Homo sapiens: one gene and its partner. The protein of the gene in region 1 purifies or fractionates together with the protein of each later gene. This does not show direct contact. Each region holds a gene or a part of one and is shown on either strand. Other genes may lie near its edges.

What was found. Proteins that work in one complex are often made in the same cells at the same time.
Region 2: the proteins of INSYN1 (region 1) and POC1B purify together in Homo sapiens (affinity purification with mass spectrometry; one large-scale study listed by BioGRID and IntAct). This does not show direct contact.

The regions. Positions count from the first base shown.
Region 1 is NC_000015.10:73,736,218-73,739,874, reverse strand, and holds part of INSYN1 (inhibitory synaptic factor 1), read left to right. Parts: 3' UTR 1-3,657. UniProt on the Homo sapiens protein: Component of the protein machinery at the inhibitory synapses, probably acting as a scaffold. Inhibitory synapses dampen neuronal activity through postsynaptic hyperpolarization.
Region 2 is NC_000012.12:89,419,075-89,422,146, forward strand, and holds the end of POC1B (POC1 centriolar protein homolog B), read right to left. Parts: intron 2,184-3,072; coding exon 2,079-2,183; 3' UTR 644-2,078; downstream 1-643.

The DNA.
Region 1 (3,657 bases):
AAATAAATATATATATATATATATATATATATATATTTAAACAAATGAAGTCATAATAAAATTTAAAAATGCTAAGGATCTGGCCCCACAGGCCCCAAAGCTTTCACAGAGCTCCTCTTAGACATGAAGATGCCCATTGGCCTCCTAGGTCCCAGGAGGTGTGGGCAGGACTGCCCTTCCTCCGTTCTCATTGCGGGGCTCCTGAAGGGGGTATCTGAAAGTATGTAAAACTGATGGGAGGTCTGATCCTCCTTTTGCTAGCCCCTGAACTCTGTGGTGGAGTCTGGCTGATGGCCAGGGCCATGTCCTAGAGGGGACTCCCCTGCAGGAGGCGGGCTCTAAAGGGAGTGGTGTCCCTTTAGGCCAGGGTTCACAGTCGGGGTGGTCTGGAGACTGCAGGACTCAGGGCCTGGGGGTGGCATCAGTCTGGCCAGGCCCTGCGTCACTTGCACCCACCATCCTTCTACTCCAAGGCAGACTTACTCGGCTATACACAGTCCTGCCTCACCCCCTTCCATCTTAGGGTTGCCTGGGACATAGGGGAATGGCAAGCTGCTCCCATGGCGCAGGCCTCCGTGCTGGGATGCTGGGCATCCACAGAGCCTGAAGGATCGCCTGGGCTGGGCAGGGGTTTGATTGGAGGGTCTGGACCACCCCCAATCCTTTCAGCTCCCATTCTCAGCCTGATTCTGAGACCAAGACCAAAACCTCAGGGCAAAGCCTCAGCCAGTCCTGGCGTGGCCCTAAGCAGACCTGAGATCTGTGCGAGGAAGTAGGCAGCCACTTCCATGGGGCTAAAAATTAGGGCCGTAGACAGGCTCCTGGCCACCTTCACCAGGTGGGCAGCCTTGGAAAGGAGCCCAGTGGTCCCCACTCCGTCCCGATGTCTCCACACCCAGCCCCTGAGCCCATCTCAGCAGGTCCTGAACAAAGATGAGGTTACAGCCTAGAGGTACCAGGGCTTCATCTGGGGCATGGCCAGCACAGGGACAGCAGCTGAATATCCTTGGGATAATAATGACAATTATATTGCTCACATTTATTGAGCAGGTCTCTATGCTACTTCTATGCCGAATACTTTTTATAGCAGCATCTCATTTAATCACCACAATAACCTGATGAGACAGGAAGTATTATTACCCCATTTTTCTTTTTCTTTCTTTCTTTTTTTATTTTTATTTTTTTTATTTTTGAGATGGAGTCTCGCTCTGTCACCCAGGCTGGAGTGCAGTGGGGCGATCTTGGCTCACTGCAACCTCCACCTGCCAGGTTCAAGCAATTCTCCCACTTCAGCCTCCAGAGCAACTGGGACTACAGGCATGCGTCACCACGCCTAGCTAATTTTTGTATTTTTAGTAGAGACGGGGTTTCACCATGTTGGGCAGGCTGGTCTGAACTCCTGACCTCAAGTGATTCGTCAGCCTCAGCCTCCCAAAGTCCCGGGATTACAGGCGTGAGCCACTGTGCCCCCACCTATCCCCATTTTTCAAATGAGATGACTGAGGTTCAAAGTAGTTCAGTACCTGCCCCAAAGCCACAAAGCCTGTGCTACTCTGCCCCCAAGAATTAGTGATTTCCAGGCTGTGCCTGGCTCTGCTAGCTAGCAGCTGTGTGACCTTGGCAAGTCCGTTTGCCTCTCTGAGCCTATCTACCTCCTCTGTATAATGGGTCTGGTAGTCTTCACCTACCTCACCAGCTGCTGTGGAGCTCCGACGAGATGGTGACTGTGAAAGCACTTGACAAACTGAAGGCACTGGACATGCCTTGTGGTCAGTGTGGCCTCAACCCAGATGTCCAGTGATTTCCAGGGCACAGGGGCTTTGAGTGGGATGGCCAAAGAAGACACCTCCATCCAACTGGGAGCCACCCCTGGGTCACAAACACTCCATTGCTTGGTCCCTCGCAGTAGCTCGAGGTCAGAAGTTGACTGCAGCTTGATTCACAGCCCCTCGCTCAGAGCAGGGAGGTGGGACTGGCAGCACAGCAAAGACATCGCTCCTTGGGGGCCTCCCTGTTGCATATTTCAATTAAGGCAGGTTTACAGCCCCCCAGCGTCTGTCCGGAGGGGGCCTGAGCAGCAGGCCTGGCAGCACCCACTGCTCCTGCCTGAAGAGGTGCTATCCAGCCCCGGCTGTGGACATACAGTGAGATTGTACAGGCCGGTCTGGAGCAGCTGCAGGGGATATGATCTGGATAAGACTGAGCAGACCTAGGAGGCTCTGCAATGTAGAGCTTATTCCTCAAGCTCATGGTGAGATTGGAGCCCTAAAGAGTTAGCCAGGGTGCAGCCACCAGTGTGGAAATCCAGGGATGGCGCAGGCCATGGCCAGCTCTTCCCAGCTCACGTCTGAGAACCAAGGGTCTGAGCCCCTCTATCAGCCCCAGGAAATCCTCAGCCATTTGGTGCTGATCAGCGATAGGGCTCTGGTTCACAGGATGAGTGCCAGGGGCTCCTCTGGGGAGAGGGGCCAGCTGCATTCCGCCCCACCCTGAGAGTGAGAAGGGGGCAGTCCCCGACCAGGAATGGGCCTACCTGGTGCTAAGAATGGACATAACAGTTCTCCCTCTGAGGCTTGCATTTCATCTGTCATGGCAAGAGCACTTTCAGGCTCACAGTTTCTCATCTTTTCAACAGTCAGGGAAAAGAAACCTATGGAATAGTTCGCATTTCACAGAGGAAGAAACTGAGGGCCAGAGCTAGGGGTCTCTGACACAGCCATGGGATCCTGCACCCCACACTGGCTCTATGTGACTCTGTAGTAGTGGCTAATGTCCATCAGTCGCCCCCTGCTCCCCTGCCTGGCCATTTGCCCCCAAATAGGGCAGTGGTGGGAGTATATCCTGGAGGAGGGGGAAGTGGGATATAGGTAGTACTTGGCTGACTTCACAATTTTGCTACACCCAGTCTGGACCTCCTGACAGTGGAGTGGGATCCCTGTGGCTTCCTTTTTCTTGTTTTTGTTTTGTTTTGTTTTTTTTTAGATGGAGTCTCCCTCTATCATCCAGGCTGGAGTGCAATGGTGCGATTTCAGCTCACTGCAACTTCCACCTCCCAGGTTCAAACAATTCTCCTGTCTCAGCCACCTGAGTAGCTTGGACTACAGGCACCCGCCACCACCCCAGCTACTAAGTTTTGTATTTTTAGTAGAGATGGGGTTTCACCACATGGCCAGGATGGTCTTGATCTCTTGACTTTGTGATCTGCCCACCTTGGCCTCGCAAAGCACTGGGATTACAGGCGTGGGCCACTACGCCTGGCCAATTTTTTTTTGTTTTGTTTTTTTGAGATGGAGTCTTGCTCCATCTCCCAGGCTGGAGAGCAATGGCGTGATCTCAGCTCACTGCAACCTCTGCCTCCTGGGTTCAAGCGATTCTCCTGCCTCAGCCTCCCAAGTAGCTGGGATTACAGGCACCCACCATCATGCCCGGGTTAATTTTTGTATTTTCTTAGAGATGGAGTTTCACTATGTTGGCCAGCCTCATCTTTGAACTCCTGACCTCCGATGATCCACCTGCCTTGGCCTCCCAAAGTGATGGGATTACAGGCGTGAGCCACCGCACCTGGCCCCAGTGGCTTCTTCAGACTTGAAACACAAAATGTGGCCAGCTAGGGATAGAGAGAATTCTGACTTTCAACACTGCTGAGTCATGGCATGG
Region 2 (3,072 bases), on another chromosome or scaffold:
CAGCTTGAGCAACAGGAAGGAAAGCTGTCATTTTATTGACACATGCAAGTCCAGGAAAGAAGCTGCTAGTGATGCTGGCTGGGGTGCAGAGTTAGAGGTAGAGGGCAGAAAAATTGGTTTTGGACCTATCTAGAGATGCCTGTTAGAGTTCCAAGTGGAGACGCTGATCAGGCAGCTGGATATTCAAGTTAGGAAAGGGATGGGCTGGAATCTGATGAAGATGAAGGAGATTCCTCAAATGCTAAAAATAAATAAATAAATAAAGAGGGAAGTTAGAAAAATTGAGTCTGTTGAAAAAGTTTCAAGGCATCTGCATTTATATCATCACTATTTTTGTATCACTTATAAAGTTCTGTGATGACTGTAAAAACTATGTGGCAACATCAGGTTCTAAGAAGTGGCTACAGGTGGTTCCTAAAGTGTGGACCTCAGGCCAAAAGCATCAGCATCACCTATGAGATTGTTAGAGATGCAAATGATTGGGCCCCACCTGACCCATGGAGTCAGCTCTGGAGATAGGGCCCAGGAAACTGTTTTGACAAGCTCTCCAGAAGATTCGCACACACATTAAAGACTGAGTGAGCTGGATGATAAGATGTTTAGTACTTCCGGGTTTTAATCATTTAAAAAGAAAAGGAACAACTTTTTCTTTTAAAGCAGAAATGTCTTTATTGTTTGAAGCATGACAAAATAAAATTGATAGGACATTTCATTTCTTACTTAGTCTTCTCAATGGGGTTATAAAAATACAATGCCACTTAGTTTTTGTAAGCTCTTGAAAATGTCCAGAAGCTCACACTTAGTATGATATTAAAAGGCACTTATAACACACAATAAGATACTTAGAAACCCATCTCATAGATACAATTGAAATTTCTTTGAGAAAAATTTCTAAATATAGAAATAAATAGGACGGCACTATTTCTTCTTTTCCAAAACACAGAATAGCATTTTCCCCATGTTACCTATACACACCATAAATGTGGACACCTCCTCCCATTTTTGTTCTTGATACAGGTTGATAATCAAGCTGAAATTAATTTGCTTGCTTTTCTTCAATTTAATCTCAATTTGGTTTAAAATAAAGCAAAATTCTTAATTTGTATCCAGGATCTTTTAGAATACCTGGCTTATTTTCATTTTGTTTTAAATCACAATTCATTAAATAGGAAGATGATGATGCAAAAATTTTAAAAAGTACTTACTATTTAGCTGCCCAAATCACCCTAAGCAACAATATTTCTGAAGCATGTGTACATACATGTGTGTATATTTTTAAATATCACTTTTGTATCACTCTGACTTTTTAGCATACTGAAAACACACTAACATAATTTTTGTGAACCATGATCAGATACAACCCAAATCATTCATCTAGCACATTCATCTGTGATAGAAAGATAGGTGAGTTTCATTTCCTTCAGGTTGGCCAATGGATAAACAAAGTACGCCATAAATTAACTAAAAAACCCACTGCCCTATGCTATATCTGTGCTATTGTTAATTAAAATAAGTGTATTCTTGCTGTGGAAATTCTGTGGTCTGGGAATTTTTATTTGTTCATTCTTTCAAGGCATTAGTAAGAAAGGATAATTTCTATTTTGAACAGAAAGACATACAACTAGTCAGATCAATAACTCATTATTGGCATATAGGATGCTATTTTGGAGGTAAGTGAATTATTTCACCCCATGACTGTCTGAATATGGTCAATCTGAAATGACTTAACAGTGAAATCCAGAGATCTGGTTACTTTCCTGGCAGGATTTGGCCTATAAATGAAAATGGACATTTAAAATAATATGGGGAAAATACAGAGTTGCTTGAATGCTTATCACTTTATTACTGCAATCATAAATGATAGTAATTTAAATTAGTCCTTCACATTGATATGTGTTTAAATTAGTCCTTAGGTATGCCTTTTCTGCCTTTTGTTCTGTTGCTCACCCTTTTAAGAAATGCCATGATAAATAGCACATGGTTGTGTTGTATGGAGTATCTTGTACTACCTTCCTGAGTGTATGTACATTTGTTCATTTATTGGGCCTCTGCCCAACAAATGAAAATGAATTTTTTATTCAGCTTTTCTGTTGGACAGCACTGAAAAGCTTTTGCTGATTTTCAAGGCAGTCTTTCAGCTTATCCTCTGTCAAAGTCAGTCGCTGCTCCAAGATTGAAACAGTCTGCAAAAAGGAGGATAAAATAATCAATGCCTGGTCCTCTGGTGGTGAGGATGACAATGACAATCTCTGCATAGGAAATCCTTTTAAGAACTGGGATGCCCACCCTTCTACCAAGAAGTTGGCTCAAAAATGAGCCCCAGAACTTGCTGTGCTTCTGGGCCCAACCATAGGGCAAGGCATTATCAAGCAGTTGGAGAAAAGAAAAGAAAAAGAAAAAACCCAAACTGATGTGTTTGAGAAAAAAAGCAGTGGAAGATCAGACCTCTTATGCCTGATCTTCTAAAGCACCAAAACCAGGGAAGAGGCCACACAGCGTTCTAAGTGGTGCCATAAGCTACACACTTAGTGGAGAAGGGGAGGGGGTGCGAAATTCCACATGCCAGCCAGATGCCACTGAAATGTCATCACTACTCATTCTGTCACAATCCAATCCATGGCAAACCGTACCTATAGCACTGCAGATGGATGGCTAGATTGCTTTGAAAATATCCTAACAATCGCCTCCAGTTCCCTCACACAGAAGATGCTAATATTACCTCGTGGAGTTGTTAGGAGGATTGAATAAAATAATGCATGTAAAATGCTTACGCTAGTGTTGGACACACACGGTTTGAATAATCCTGTACTCACTTATTAGCTGAAGGAGTTAGAACACATCCAGAATACATATACAAACACATATACATATATATATTAAATGTTAACATATGTTTTATATATATGTTAAACTTGGGATATCTAATTTTTGTGATACTGGCTACTCTGCCTTCATTCTTTTGTATCTTTTTTTTTTAAAAAAACTTATTATAAAATGAAACATAGATTATTCAGGAACCCACACAAGGTACATGTGTTATTTAATGGATTCTTATAAGAAATACATCCTCAA